Regions from separate parts of the Homo sapiens genome. Here region 2 is linked to region 1. The links come from fine-mapping of genetic effects on gene expression. Tissue or cell type: adrenal gland. Region 1 holds a variant in brackets; the other region holds the start of a gene. All regions are shown on one strand. Distances are from middle to middle.

What was found. PIP is the estimated chance that this variant, and not a neighbour inherited with it, causes the effect.
Region 2: it holds the start of JAZF1, and the variant in region 1 is fine-mapped to the expression of JAZF1 in adrenal gland (GTEx, PIP above 0.99).

Annotation. Positions count from the first base shown.
Region 1 is chr7:27,859,281-27,867,387 of GRCh38, forward strand. The region is part of intron 3 of JAZF1 (JAZF zinc finger 1); the gene reads right to left. Among named protein-coding and RNA genes, the nearest start is that of TAX1BP1-AS1, 120 kb to the left of the region's middle. RefSeq lists an enhancer at 4,768-5,268. The variant C/A (reference allele first, on the strand shown) is at 4,931.
Region 2 is chr7:28,177,002-28,185,108 of GRCh38, forward strand. JAZF1 (JAZF zinc finger 1) reads right to left here and starts at 3,794. Exons shown (of 5, transcript NM_175061.4): 1 at 3,462-3,794. The coding sequence starts at 3,576. It overlaps JAZF1-AS1 (JAZF1 antisense RNA 1), which reads left to right and starts at 3,456. Exons shown (of 4, transcript NR_034097.1): 1 at 3,456-3,538. RefSeq lists enhancers at 2,013-2,514, 2,515-3,014 and a silencer at 2,869-2,988.

The DNA.
Region 1 (8,107 bases):
GTAAATTATTTCAACCATTGTGGAAGACAGTGTGGTGATTCCTCAAGGATCTAGAACCAGAAATACCATTCGACCCAGCAATCCCATTACTGGGTATATACTCAAAGGATTATAAATCATTCTACTATAAAGACACATGCACATGTATGTTTACTGCAGCCCTGTTTACAACAGCAAAGACTTGGAACCAACCCAAATGTCCATCAATGATAGATAAAGAAAATGTGGCACATATACACCATGGAATACTATGCAGCCATAAAATAGGATGAGGTCATGTCCTTTGCAGGGACATGGATAAAGCCAGAAACTATCATTCTCAGCAAACTAACACAGGAACAGAAAACCAAACACCACATGTTCTCACTCATAAGTGGGAGTTGAACAATGAGAACACATGGACACAGGGAGGGGAACATCACACACCGGGGCCTGTTGGGGCATGGGGGGCTAGGGGAGGGATAGCATTAGAAGAAATACCTAATGTAGATGACGGGTTGATGGGTGCAGCAAACCACCATGGCATGTGTATAGCTATGTAACAAACCTGCACGTTCTGCACATGTATACAGAACTTAAAGTATAATAAAAAAAGAAAATGAATACAAATTATCAAATAAAAGTCTGTAAAGTCTACGATAATTGTACAAGTGCACGACAGTAAATGATGATGTGCAAAAGTGCTCAGCGAGCCTGCCACATCTGTTATTGCTGGTTTTTGAACTGTGGTGGGAGGAGGTGCTCCTTACAATAGTCACACATTTATTTCTTAATTTAACCCACTACCAAGAGGACCATTGTTACTCACTGATGCATCAAAACTTGGGTAAATAATTATCCTGTTTAATTAATTTTCTTAAATGTATGATAGCTCACATTTATTTTAATGTTTAATACTAGAAGTGTTTTGGGTCTTTATTTAGAAGTTTGCTGTTTTTGTGATCAGAAATATGCTGTAGGAACTTAACTTCTCTTTGTATAAATTAGCCTTTGGGAAAATTGGTTCTGTTATATGTCATTTCACTTAAAGTGAAAATTTCCAAGAACCTCTTGACAACATTAAGTGAGGCCTTCCTGTATTTGGCTTCATTAGTATTCAATGTTGCACTATGATGACACTGAGCCATGGGATGAACCAAGCTCACATCTTTATCTTCCTTGGAGTTCAACACCATCTCCACAACCTCTGTTGTGATCTTTCTCATCTTCATCCTCCTCCTCATCCTCCTCACTGCATGAGCAGCTGATGTGTATCTGGGGCTCACTACAGGCCAGGCACAGCTCTAAGCGCTGTACATCTATTAGCTCATTTAAATGTCACAACAACCCTTTTAGGTGAGTACTAAGATTATCTTCATTTTACATAAAATGGAAGCCCAGAGAGGCAGAGTATCTTGTCAGAGGTCACAAAGCTCCTCCGTGGGGTGCAAGGGTTCCCAGCTGGCCAGGGTCTGTGTTCCCAGCCAGCGTACTGCACTGCATACTTGAATCCAGCCTGACCCTCAGATGGACTGTAAGCCTCCTCTCAGTGTGTTTAAGCCCCCAGGTATTCTGGTTCCCCCCATCCCCACTTTCCTCTTTGCCTCCCCTCGTCCCTCCTTTTTCCTAAGAGACAGTCTTTGGGCACCTGGTGCCCTCTGTCCTTCTACTCCAGAACCACCCTGCATGGCTGCCATCCTGGGATTCCCCTTCTCCACTGTCCCAGCAGTTCCCTTTTCCTCTCCCCACATGGGGCCGATGCCTGTTCCAAGGTTCTGTGTCTTCCTCTTTCTTCGTTCACCCCTTGCTTGGGTCATGGGAGGTAAAATCTGGAGTCCCTGAATGTCTGAGGACGTCTTCATTCTACTCTCAGGTCGATGCCCACGAGTCCTGAGCTGCACTAACTCCCATTCTCAGATGTGTCCTCCTCCTGGGAGACTCAGCTTCTCGCTGCTCTCTGTCCTTCCACCTGCCATCCTTTTACTACTGTGCGGGGGACTCATCCACCTGGAAACTCACGCCCTTCAGTTCTGGGAAATTTCTTTGAAAAAAATTTTTTTTTTATAATTTCCTCTCTTAGCTGTCTTTCTGGGAATTCTTTTTATTCTAATGTTACACACCTCCTGGACTAATCCTCTCATATTCTTATCACTTCTGTTTTCTAAATCTCTGATTTTTTTTTTCCTTTTTACTTTCTGGGAGATTTTTCTAAAATAGCTCTCTGTCCTTTCTATAAATGTTTTCATTTCTGCCATCACCTGTTTTAATTTCCAAAGACTACTTTTTTTATTCTTTTTTTTTTCATGCACAAAGCTTTCTTCTCTCTGTAAGGAGAAGGTTGTTGTTTTTATTTTCTCCTGCCCCATGCACTGTCACTGTTTCTCCGGTGTGCCTTTTTTCCTCTTTAATCTGGTCTCTGACACTGTCTGTCCTGGAAGCCATTCCCAAACCTTGAGGATCCTTGTCTGTCTGCTCATATTTAAAAGTGAGGCATAAAAAGCAGATTGGATGCTCTGGTGCATAGGTGGGTCTATCAAATGGTGAAGGTCCACACAGTGAACCTGGAGGGGGACCACCTCACAGGTCCTTTCCCCTTGGGCTGACCATCCTGGGTGGTGTGAGTGGCTGTGGGTAGAGAAAGGGCACTGGACTTCTACCACTCAGGATGGAGTCTCTTCCTCAGCCTCCCTGTTCTAAGAACTGTGCCCTCACCCTGGGCTCTGCCTGGCAGCTCTGGTTCAGCATCTCCAGAGCCATGCTCTGTCACGGGAGGGATGGCAGCTGCCTGGCCTCGCAGAGTTAGGGAGGATACAGAGGGGGAAAGGAAGGGACATCCCGTGGAGACTCTCAGCCAGTTCTCCTGACTTCAGCCTTATCTGTACTCCCACATTCAGAGGTATCTGTAGCTCCATTTTTAAAATAGAACAGATTTATTTTTACTTTTTAAAAAATATTTTCAACTTTTATTTTAGATCTAGGGGGTACACATGCAGGTTTGTATATTGTGTGATGCTGAGGTTTGGGGTACAATTGATCCCATCACCCAGGTCCTGGGCATGGTAATCAATAGTTAGCTTTTCAACCCTTGTCCCCTCCCGCCTCCCCCGCCCCAGAGGTCCCCAGTGTCTACTGCTGCCGTCTTTATGTCCATGAGTACCCAATGAACATAAAGCTTTACTGAGGTATAATTCACATACTATACAATCCACTTATTTCAAGCGTACTGCTCAAGGTTTTCCATATATTCACAGAGTAGTGCAGCCATCATCTCAAACAATTTCAGACCATTTTCATCTCTCCAAAGAGAGACCACGTACCTATTAGGTTGCTCCAGATCTGGAGGCTTTCTGGGATTATTGAATGTGAATCAGCCCACCTCTGAGCTCACCCTTTTCAGCTTAAGTTCCAGCTTTTTCTAGTCTGCTAAGTCAGTGACCTCTTTTCCACTTGCTGTCCAGCTTCCACGCTTCTGTTGCTGCTGCCTCACCTCTATCTTTATCTTTGTGGCTTATGATTTTGAAACCCCGCTTTCTGTATTTTGGGTGCATGTGCGTGTTCACATCACCTTTTTAAACTGGAAGTTCCCTGGCTGCTTTGAAATCATTCTTTTTTCTAGCAAGAACAAAAGTTCCAGGCCTGTCTTGGATTACTCCTGCCCTAAGACATGGGGTCAGCTCCTTTCCTTTAAATAGAGGACAGCACTGAGACCAAAATCTAGGTGCTGCTTGTGGGGCCCGATGGTCCCATGTGAGGGCTGCTTCTGGGTAGGGCCACCATTCCGGCCTGCCTTGGGGACAGGGCTGTCTGGGCTTCTCTTTAGGATCATGAATTCACTACTGACATTTCCAATTTAATGCTAACATCAACATGTGCTTCAAAATGTTATTTCAGGTGAACATGCAGATTTATTTTCTCTGCCTACGGCTACTTCGTTGTCTATTCCTTCCCTGCCCATCATTATCCTTCCCTCTCTTTTATGACACTTGTATGTCTCCATGTCCATCTGGCTGGGGTCCCTTTGATGACCCTGTTCTCCCTGCTCTTGAATTAGAGACCGGTGGCTATAAAATGCTGAGCCTGTCCCCGCCACAGGGCCTTCTTCCCATGGTGCCCTCTCCTTGGACTTTCTTCTTCCAGTTTTTCTCATGGGTGGCTGCTCAGCATTCAGGTCATGTCAGCTCAAATGTCACTTCCCCCAGGAGGCCTGCCCTGATCACCTCCCTGCCGAGGGAGCCCGTCCTTGCCCAGGCACAACCTCCGTACCTGGGTATCTCCCTCATAGTGCAGCTAACTTTCTAAATGATGCTGTTTTCGTCTTTGCCATCCTTCTTCCCCCAGCACTGGAATGCAAGCTCTGCAAAACTGAATTCCTGGTATCCTTAAAAGTGACTGGCACACAATTGGCACTCAATATATATTTGTTGAAGAAATAAATCAGAGGCAGAGACAATGTGCAAACACAGGGCCTCCTGACCCCCAGGCCACTGTCTTGTGACTACGCGATGTGGTTCCTTGGGGAACAGAAATCCAAGTACAAGGCTCAAGGGAGGAAGGCATAGCGAAGACACACAAAAACGTCACCTACCTGAGATTCAGCTTCCAGCAAATGAAACGCCTAAGTTCAATTCCCTGTCACATTTCTCTCTGCCAGTTTTTGGCAAAGAAGTGAAACTCACAAGTTGATGGAATGCTTGTGGGCAGTGGCACTTCCCGCTAGGTCAACTGCCAGAGAGGAGCACAGGAGAATGCAGGGGCTGCCTCCTCCAAGCCGCCAGCTTTGTGAACAGAGCCCGGACTCACCAGGAGCGCAGGGCCCTGACTACCGCCTGGCCGCTGTGACGAGACCGTCGTCATCCTAAGGGCTAATGATGCACAGAGGAGGCTGTGACTCACCCCTGGCTCCCTCACTCTGCATCAGGGAAGAAGGAAGAATGTCACCCTAATTCCATGG[C/A]CCGCGATTTAATTTGAGGTCAAGATCAAAGCTATTCAAATCAACATCTTCTAAAAACTGGAAATTCAGATTTTAAGACAATTCCACAAAGCCATAACAAGAAATTCTGCATGTATTTAAATAAGCACATTCTCAGAAAAAGATGAAAAAAATGCACACCCTAGGAAAAATCAGTCCCTTTCTCATTAACCCTAGAGTGCCAGGCCCCTTCATCCTTTTCTTCTTTTCATTTTGAGACTTCAAAGCAGCCCTCTGCTCACCTACTCAGTTTGGAGTCAAAACCCATGGGTTTGCCCGGCTCAGAGCCTACTGCCCCCCTAGCAGGAGTCCTCTCCCTGCTGAGGGCTCCGGTCAAGCTGACTTCTCCTGGTACCTGAGTTCCCTGCTCTCCCAGCTTGGTTAGAAGAGAAAGAAACCACCTGAGTAGCACCAAGAAAATATCATCTCCTTTATTGTTCCCATATGTTGTTTCAGGTCTCATTTCTTAAAAAAAAATCCTACATTTTTAGGAAAAACTGAGCAACGAAAAATGCCAACGTCTCTTCAGGACAGCAGGGAGCTCAGAGAGACACCTTTCCCCATCCGTTAACCAAGTCAGAAGTCCCACTACTTCCCTCTTGGGGAGATCAAAATGACTTATTTTCCCTTAACAACATTTCTCAATGTTGCTACAGACTTGGGGAAATTTACTATAAAGTTTTTCTGTGGCAATGGGCTCCCTCACAGGACCTGCTTCCCCCAGAGTCTCGAATAGTGCTCCCAAACTGCAGACCGTGACCCAGGAGTAGGTTGTGAGATCAATTTAATGGGGCATGACGAGCATTTGAAAAGGGACAGAATGGAATAGAGAGTATCAGAGTATAAGGTGTGTTCATGGGCTGGGCACAGTGGCTCACAGATGTTAATCCTAACACTTTGGGAGGTTGAGGCAAGCAGATCGCTTGAGCCCAGGAGTTCAAGACCAGCCTGGGCAACATGGTGAAATCCTGTCTCCACAAAAAATACAGAAATTAGCCAGGTGCAGTAGCACACGCTTGTGATGCCAGCTACTCAGGAGGCTGAGGTAGGAGGATTGCTTGAGCCTGGGGAGGTTGAGGCTGCAGTGAGCCATGATCGTGCCACTGCACTGCAGCCTAGGTGACAGAGTGAGACCCTGTCTCCAAACAGAAAACAATGACAAAAGAGATGTGTTCATGAAGCTTTTGTTTCAGGGGTGTATGTGCTCTCTCACAGAAAATGTAGTTCTTACTACTTCAAACAGTAAAAATCTTTAAAGCCATATTTAACCATCAGAATCTAGTTTATAGGATTTCTTTATAAAAGAACCAACATTTAACCCAGAAAAAACATACTACTGAATAATGGTATCCAACATTTAAATAGGATATAAAACAGGCTAACAGAGAAAGAGAAGGGGAGTTTTTGGCGACCATCGACAAGATGTTGTGTTAGCTAGGAGTACAGTGAGTGCCACCCACCAGCCCTCCCCACCAGGAACCTGAAGTTTAACCGGGGAGCAGAGCTGTTGCCAATCCAACTTCCGTAGCTTCAGAAGGGCCCAAGTAGAAGGGAGCTGACAGCCACAGACACGAAAGTGACAGATACACAGATTGATGGACAGTATGCAGAAGATTCCCAGCTGATTCAGTATCCTTTAGGACACGGGGCACATTCTTTGTGAATATTCTCAAGGGCAGTCCACCCTTGCTTTCTGAGCAGGTGACTTTGTTCTAGGGAACAGCCACAAGTCACTTGGGGCTGTTCTGCTGGACTAAGAATGATCATGTATGCGGCACTTTGAACTCCTTACTCAGGCCGTCATCAGGCTGCTACCTAGAATGGGTTCGCAGACAGGTTCAAGTCTTGCAGCACAACCTCAGCTCGTCTTCATCGAGTGAGGGCAGCACTGCCGGCACTGAAAGGATGGTGCTCTGTGACACAGTGCACGTAGGCATTTGTATGTAGTATGGATATTTTGTACTTAGTAATTTTGCTTACTTAACAGACACTACAATTTCTATATGATAAAATGAAAGGAGCCACAATGATGATAGGCCAGATTGCAATGTGCAAAGGTGCACACAGAACGGCTTCATCCTTCCATTAACCCTGATGAACACAAAGACACAAACTCAACCCAACTGTCCAGAGCCCACATGGTGAGGTGGCTAAGAGAGGCACTTGGGAGCAGGCATCCTGTGCTTCATTCTGCTCTGTTCTGACAGTTATCTCACCTCTCCACACCTCCATTTCCTCATCTGTAAAATGGAAGTAATATTAGAGCTAACCTCACAGGGCTGTGGTGAAGATTCTGTGGTTTCATAAGCATATTTAGGTTGACTTCCAGCACACAGTTAACACTATATTAGTGTTGGTTGCTATAGTCCTGTTAATCAGTATTTTTAAATTAAATGTCTGGATTTGAACAACGACCAAGGAACCACAAAGGCCTAACAATAATCTAATTCGAATTATCTGCCTATAATTAGTGGACTAAAATGTCTAAAATGTAGTTTACATTTCGAACACACTCGATTACCATACTGCTTCCTAACGGTGTTGGAGAAACATAATGTGCTGATTTAGGATTATATTGCTGAATTTATTTTCATTAATCCATTCACATTAGTGGAGACCTGGGGATAAAGAAGACACGCTGTCTCTCTGGCCTCGAGGTGCACGATGCAGAACTTGGGTGGGCAGACTGCATCACACCGTGGAGGAATGCAAGGTTGGAGATGGCCCAGACACTAAGGGAGTGCCTCACTCTTAACGACATGACTTCTGAAGGCAGTGAGAGTGAGTACTGTCTTTGTTGGACCAACTGCTGCTTGTGTCTGCACTGCGGCAGCCCTCGCCGGAGCTTGTTTTGGTATGATGATTTCCTTCTTAACTGTGAAATAAAATGTGCTATATTTATAGAGGGTACACCTACAGACAGGGTGGATATTTTTATGCCAAGAGAAAGCTCAAAAGGAGGGCTGGGAAAGGGAGGATGATTGATATAGAGAAAAATGTTGCAATGATCAAGATGAGAAATAATTAGGGTCTGCCAGCCAAAACCAGTTTCTACTACATCAGAGTAATTGTCTCTTCCAAGACATAGCATATGACATGAAAATGCACCAACAGAAAATAAGCTGCTTCTCTTGAGAATAATGTCGTGAGAGTCACTGA
Region 2 (8,107 bases), 320 kb after region 1:
AACCTGGACCTGCTTTTCCCATCTCCATGTAACAGACTCAGACCTATGAATGAATTGATAACAAAATTGATGGAAAAGCACTTCACAGTTGCAGGGCTACGGGATTTCTCGGCAATTTAAATTTAAGTGGGGATGGGGGAGAGTTTTAGCTAGGATATTCAGTGTATACACTGAGACAGGTACTCCAGTACTGAACCAGCAGTGAAATGCAAGAAAGAAAACAGGAACACCGGTACAGCACTCTTCCAGGAGAGAAAAGAGCTAAAAAAGTGGGTGGTGAAAATCACACTTCCCTTGGTTCTAAAGCCCCCAAATCCTTGTTCATTATGGGGAGAGGAAAACAGTTAAAAACAAAAGTTAAGCATACACATATAAGATAACAGAGAGTTATTCTCAACTTAATGCACTTAATTAATCCAAACTAAACATAATACTTTTATAATGAAAAACACAGGCCTTGAAAAATCTGCCAAGCAAGAAACACACCATATTCCCATAAATATTCATTTTATCGCTGTTTAAGGGTTTTTACTAGTGGCTAAAGGTAATAACCCAGATAGGCCCCCAAAATGGAATGCTCACCTAAGCATATCTCTAATACTCACGGTTGCTAAATAACAAGACTGTTGAACAAATTAAAAGCAAAATAACACACCTCTTATTCTTTTCATGAATCTTTTTAATGTAACCACTCACCAACAGACATGAAATCAGTAAGTCAATCATTAACGGTCTCCAAATACTTATAGATTGAATCAAAAACGATAAATACCACATAACAATACCTGTCTAGAACTTTGACTAAATGCTTTATATTTTCACCCATGTCTTTTCATCAGAAGTGTATTTATATGACACTATCTACTAATTGGGATATTTTTATTCTTCTTAAGATCAGTTCTTCTTTCTGCATATAGGGCTGCCTTTGATAGTAAAGGGCCTCTCCCCAGCAGAAGTGTATAATAGTTTGAGCCTCTTCATCCTGGGAATTGCAAGTGTTTGTTCATTTTAACATTTGCTTTTCATAAAGTTTGCTGGTTCAAACTGTTTTCAACTGTGTTAGCCCTGCAACACAGTTCACCTAGGTCACTGCTATTGCTGTAAACTTAATTTTTCCACATTTTCACTATTAAAAGGACAACACTAGCCTTCTGGGAATGAGGTAGCATTACTTCAAAGCTGAGTTTTAGAAAACGTATCAAACTCTTAACCTTCTTTAAAAATGTGTGCAAAATATTAAGACAATTTCTACACTTAAAAAAAAAACCTCATGATTCACCAAGTTTTAAACCATCTCAAACTAAATCCTCAAGAAGGATAACTGTCTTTAACACATTTTAATAAATATAATTTATACTGTCTTTTAACCAGCTTGTCTAAGTAGGTAGGCAATGGGGTAAAATTATTACTCAGCTTATATAAATTATAGTTTATTCTGAAATAACTGTTAGCGAGAATGGATGGGATATGCAATGACAGCCTTCTGTAAGTCAAGAGAAATTATTTATTTATATTACTTATATCATACATATTAATGTATAGCATTATCTATATTTATTTTTTACTTATTATTGGGAGTAAGGGGAAGAACTTGAACTAGTAACATTTCTACCAGAACTTCACAGTACCGGTGTTTTCGCTTTATTTTAAACTAGCCATCATGAAAAATCTGATTTAATACTTTCAAGCACTTTCAGTTATGACTATTCAATCATGATATGAATCAGCAAATTGGTTGCTCCATTAAACTGCTTTTAAGACTACCAAAACTTGCCCAGCTCTTCTGTCATACCTTTAGCAGAGGAAATGGAAGAAGCTATTACAAGGACGCCTGAAAACTTGAAAAGTTTCAAAACCTGGACAATTACTCAACAGCATTTTCCTCTGAAAGACATTTTGTAGACGTTTCCCATGATTATCTCCTATTCCGGATGGCCCATCAAATCACATTCTAAACAGGCATTCAACACTTATTAAGCAGCCACTGTGTGCAGAGACAGCACTATACTAAGCAAAGGAGCATAGGGTTCTGCCTCATTTTATTCCTGCATAAATACACAGCAGTCGTGATTTATTCTCTCAACTTTGTAGAAACGTGAGCTGCATCCACATGGCTGAATCCATGGCATTCATTTGGACTTCCTGGGGGCAATTTACAGGTTCTCTGGATTAGACAGCCCCATTGGGACATCGCTCGGACCCTTCACCTTCTAGCCCACGCAGGACAACTCGCTGGCGTCGGTCACACCTTCCGCAGGTGGTTGGACCGCCTAAGCCAGATGCACCCGGCCCACCTCCCTTAGCAGGGGTTCCGAATAGAAGTGTGAAAATGTGTGCAATGACTTCTGCAAATCAGAGGACTTGTTGAAAGGTCCAGGGGTCCAGGCGTGAAGGGAAAGCAGCCACCCTGCGGGGCGCCCCCTCCCCGGCGTCTCCCGGGCCCGGGGCGCTGCGCAGGCCGCCGCCGATCCCAGGGCGCAGCCAGCGCACCTCGGGCCTAGCACCATTAGAAAGGCAAATCGCAGAGCCGGGGTGCATTTAAATGCCCGGCCATGGGCCCTGGGGGTGTCTCTCCAGCGGGCGCCGCCGCAGGGGCCTCCAGGGCGCGTCGACCCCGGGGCGCTGGGCGCGGCCCGCGGGCGCACCCAAGACCTCAGCCCGCAGCGCCCGGGCGTCCGCGCCAGGCCGGGGCAGGGGAGGGCACCCAGAGCCCCCGGGCCCGCGTCCCCGGCCCCGCCCGGGCCCCTCGGCCGCCTCCCAGGGAGAGGGCAAGCTCCCCGGCCCCCGCCCGCGGCCGCCGGCCCCGGCCCCCTCCCGACGCACCACACCTAGCAACCGGCGCTGACAGGACGCAGTGGCGGCGGCGGCGGCGGGAGGAGGAAGCGGAATGGCTGCCGCGGTGGAGCCACCCCCGCCCCCCCGCTCCACCTCCCCGCGGCTGCAGCCGCCGCCGAGCCCTGACAGCTCGAGCCGGGGCGGAAGCGCCCGGCGGCGTGCAGCGCCCGCCCCCCGCTGCCCTCAGCGCCTCGGGCTACTCCGACCACCCGGGCCAACTAACTCCGCGACCCTGCCCAGCGCCCAGCTCCCGCCGCCCGCCGCGCCCTCCGCCCCGCGCCCCGCGCGCCGGCACTCGGCCCCGCCGCCGCAACCCCGCCGCCCCGCCGCGGCGCTCCCCGCTCCCACCACTTCGCAGCCCGCGTGCACGCCCCTGAGTCCCCCAGCCGCCCGCCCGCCCGCCCGCGGCACCTCGGGGCGCCCGCCCCCTCCCCCACCCGAGCCCGCTCCCCGCCCCCCGGCACCTCGCGCCCCCGCATCCCGCCACCCCCACCTCGGGGCTCGCACGCGCCCTCCCCGCCCTGCCGCCTCCCTCCCCGCCGGCCACCCCTGGCCATTCCGGGGCTCCCCGCCCGGGCAGGAGTTTCCGCGCGCCTGGCACCCCCGCCCACCCCCGGGCCATTTACCGATGTGGTTGTCCTCGATGTGCTCGATGAGGTCGGCCAGGGTGGGGAAGTGGAGTCCGCAGCCCCCGAATCGGCAGGTATTGGAGAAGAAGGAGGCGGCGGCGATGCCTGTCATGGTGCTACATCGAGAGCCCCCCTGGTGTCGGCTCTGCGAGCGCCGGGCGGGCGAGGGAGGGAGGGAGGCCGGGTGGGGTGAGGAGAGGAGGGGCTGGGGGAGGGGGAGAGAGGCGGGGTGAGGGGAGCGGCGAGGACGGGACGGAGGGAGAGGGGGCGAGAGAGATGGAAGGAGAGCGAGGAGCCACCGGGAGGCAGAGGGGAGGCGGCGGCTGCGGCGGCGGCGTCGGGAGCGGCGGGGGGAGGGCGGGGGCGGGGGCGGGGGGGGAAGGCCGCCGCAGCTGGGAGGAGGGACCAGGGCGCGCGGCTACAGCTGTGCGGCCCCAACCTCAGCGCGCGGACCCAGGCCTCACCTGCGAGCCCTGCCACCAACTTTATCTCGCTAGGCCTGCCCTTTACGGCTTGCCATCCGTGCCATCTGTTTGGAGCCTCCTTGGTTATGTATATGACGTTCTTAATACACCCACATCGATTAATTACACCTACCTCCCTGCGAGGAGAACTCAGGGAGTTACCCTGGTCCCTCTCAGGGACATTTTTTTGTACTCAGCCACCTGTCTAGGTGTGACACATTCACAGGGGACCCAGGAAAGGTAATTGTGTGCACCTTCTTCTTTAAACCTTCTTTAGAAAAAGTACACATTCTCCGGAGGTTTGTACTAACTAATTGATTTTAATGAAGCTTTCCCTCTAGGCCAGAAAAAAATCTTAGCTTTATTTAAATTTCAAAATAGAGTGCTTGGTTGTCAAGTGCATTTGCCTGTGTTTTACATATGTGCCACGTTTTTTATACTCCCTGCTCCTTCTAGGAAAACAAAAACTAAAATAATTTCATCACCCGAAATTACAGCACCCTACTGCACCCACTCCACCATCTCAGGTCTGGTAATTAACCCATCCTCGTTTCAGCCACTGCAGAAAGGACAGTGCATTGGTTAAGGCTAGAAGGAGCGGAAACAACGGCAAGGGACATAGTGACTCTTCATTTAAAAAGGAAGCGATTTCATCCTGTGAGCATTTAAAGCATAATGTTGACCAGGTAACCACTTAAGGTGAATTTAGTAGCTTCCCTGAAAACCAGCATTTTGCTGAGAATCAATTACTTTCTTGTCCCCACCCCCTCCTCCAGTTGCAGTCATATTTCTTCTGTAAAGTGTGTATTTTCCAGTAGCACTTTTCCAGGTGTCTAAGAAATATTACACATTATCAGCAGTTTATGACCCAACAGTACATTTTTTTTATTAATATTAATATATGCATACTGAATTTAGCATTTTTCCTTAGGGCAAATTTCACTTACCCTCTGGTGCAGATGCATGGAGAAATAGTATTCCTCCCTCCATAAACTCTATGCATCTCTGTCTAGTGTTATTTCTAATAATGGGATTGTTTGCTTTTCATGTAAGTGCTTAGAGTAAAGGCACATGTAATATGTCTGTTGCTACAGGAAGTTTTATGATCTGACCATCACCGGTGGCATTTTCTCTTCTCATCTCTTCTGTCTTGCAGCTCACAAGGTGACAAACTTGCTGAGATGAGATTCGGCTTGGGTGGGGCTGGGGCAGCTGTGTCTTGAAGTTCAGTTTGGTGCCAAGAATGGTTTCATGGGCCCAATGAGGGTGGGGGCAGGGCCCTGGTGGGCCTGATAATGAGCCAGGGACCGAGTTGGCAGGGGACTGAGGCCAAGGCCAGACAAGGGTCTAAAGAGCAGGAGTTAGAATTCTAGATCTTGAATTAGAATTTTGGCAGCTGTGCAGTACATTCAGCTGCCCAATCTGGGAAGGCCTTCAGCTGAGAGCAGGCAGAATATCTGGCAGGCACACACCACACCAAATGACATGGAAATGCAATACAAAACTTCAGCCAAAAATGATGCCAAAACAGCCACCCTTAGAGATGAATGTTAGGCACCCCCACTATGCAGCATCTGGGAGCCCCAAAAGCTTTGAAGAAGTAGCAGTTCTGTCCTCCAGAGGAAAAATTGTCTACGTGGAGTTATTAACTCCCAAGAGTGTGGAGAGGTGGTTCAGGCAAGAGAGTTCCGAGATGGGAAGTGCCAGAAATGTGCAGGTGAAAGATGAAGGAAGTAAGGGGCCTGGGTTTCACTAATGCATGGCTTTCTACTACCTCCTGTCAGTTTCACTATTCCTAAAATAAAACCTTGCTAGACCAAATTGAAAAAAATAGATTTTTTAAAAAATGAAGTGAGCTAAAATAACTTCCAAAGTAAATCAAGATATTGGTTTTTAAGACAAAATTATTTTCTCTACCTTGGATAATTATTACTGTTTTGTAAGGAATCAGTTCATTTTGCCTGAAAATAATCCACCCTACTACTTCTTCATATGTGACTGAAGCTTTGTTTATGTGATGTTCTGCTCATACTACTTTTTAAAAATCTGTACACTCTAGGCATTTCCGGTCTTTATATAAGATACATGATTGTGATCTCTTAGACCTGGAAGATACTCTGGCTGTCAGAACCACTGGTTTTGGAGATGTGGTAAACTGAGGCCGGGGCATCAAGCAAGTTCTCCCAGGTGCACACAGACAGTTTTTTTCTCTGTACTCATGGTGCATTTAGAAGGCATTGATAGACAATAGAAGGACAAATTATATATAGATAGTAACCACAGGCAAAGTTTTTTAAAAATTGCTAATAGCATGCTTACCTTTCTGTACTTATATTTTTAAAATGTTTGTTTCCAGGATATCCCTTTAGATAAAGTCAACATCTAAGCTACAAAAATATATAAAACAAACAATTCAACTTATTACATCCGAGAGAGAAGGTGATGACTGATATACCTCTGTACTGGCAAAAAACATCTGTCTGATTTGGAAAGTAAAAATATTTGAAAGGAGAGGGAAAGTGAGGGAACTGAGAAGTCAGAATGATATGACAGTGGCTGTAGACAAGAAGCATTCTCTGGGTTTAAGAGCCTTTTCTTGAAAACCATCTGTCTCTCCCCAGAGCCCAGTGCCTCCCAATGTATAGGCACAAAGTATGGATGTGCAGTGGCCCCATAATATGGTACTTAGCATTACAAATGGTTTGAGATCGCATAACAGTCTCCCCAAATCCAGCATGTCCAGTGCCCTCGAGATGGGGCAGCTGCCGGAAGGTGTGAATCCACTGGTCTAATGGAGCCAACTGAAGACACTGAGGATCCTGCTTCATACAGCTGTCTGTCCTCCACATACAGGAATTGGTTTATTTTGGCATACACTGATAATCAAAACCGTGCACTTCCTGTGTCCTGTGTGGACATCTGTTAATGATGCAAGAGGATCTATATGAACATTAGATTCTATCTTGAATCTAACTCTATACTGCCTTCAACTGTAGCTTTCTCTGGCTTTTTAGATTGTTTTCCAGGTCCCTCTTGAGGTGCTTTTCAGGTTTACTAGATATTTCTTCTATTGTCACCACTGTGTCGAAGGAGCAGATCATGAACCTTGGTCTTCTTCAGCTCATGCAAGTCTGTGGACGCTTACAATGTCTGATGTTCCCTGGCTCTTGAATGCTAAGGCTGCCACTTCCACCAACAGCAACCTTGGGCTCAAAGGGATGCCTTCTTTTTAGGCTCCATCTTCTTCTAAGGAGGATGATTTCTATTCCAGGTTTTATTGTTTAATATTTATGTAACCAAGTTTTCTGTATTTATTTTATTCCAGCTCAGAAATGAATCAGCTTTATCTGCTCTCTGGTGATTAATTCTCATTTTGTCCCTCAGTCTCATTTTGCCTAGGATTAAGAGCTAGCCTTAGAATGAGTAATGGGGGTATTCTTATTAGTTGCCACCAGTGACCTCATGAGTGTTAGCCCCTAGCTCTCCACCTGGCTGCTCCTGCCTACTGACTGTATACGTAGTTTTGGCATTTATTTCCAGTTCCTTGAAGGACTTTTCCAGAACTAAAGTAGTAAAACACCCACCCAATCACTGCAGTTCTAATTGAGCATCCTGGATCCATTCCACTACATTATGTGCCACACTACTACCCAGATGATAACTCCAAACCCAAATCTGATGGGAGCCACTGCTGCTCAGGCCACCCCAACCTGAGTTTTAGAATAATGTTAACAGAAGCAGCTAAGCAATTACTGTTTCATTTTTGCCTTTAACCTATCTTGATTGAACATCTATGCAAAGCTCCTGTTACACAACTCCAGAAGGCTCTATTTATATAGGCAACTGCATGAACAGTGACCCTGGGATCTGTGCAGCCTTGCAGTCCTGTTCCACTGCGCAAGATATGAGGGATACAATTTGAATAAGACAAGCCCAGTCTCTCCTCACGTGAGAGAGCACTAGGTGCTTTGCAAAGTCCTCCTCAATCTATTCTAAGGGCCTGCTAGGGGTGGCTTGGTTGGACTCCGTGTACTACCCTCTTGGCTGCTCTGGTATCTATTATTTCCCTTCTTTCCAGCTTTGGCTCACTCAGATGATAACTTCAGTTGCTGTTGACTGTAATGGAGCCACTAAGGCCACTAATGCTTGTAAAAGACTGCACAGCCTTTTTTGCCCAAA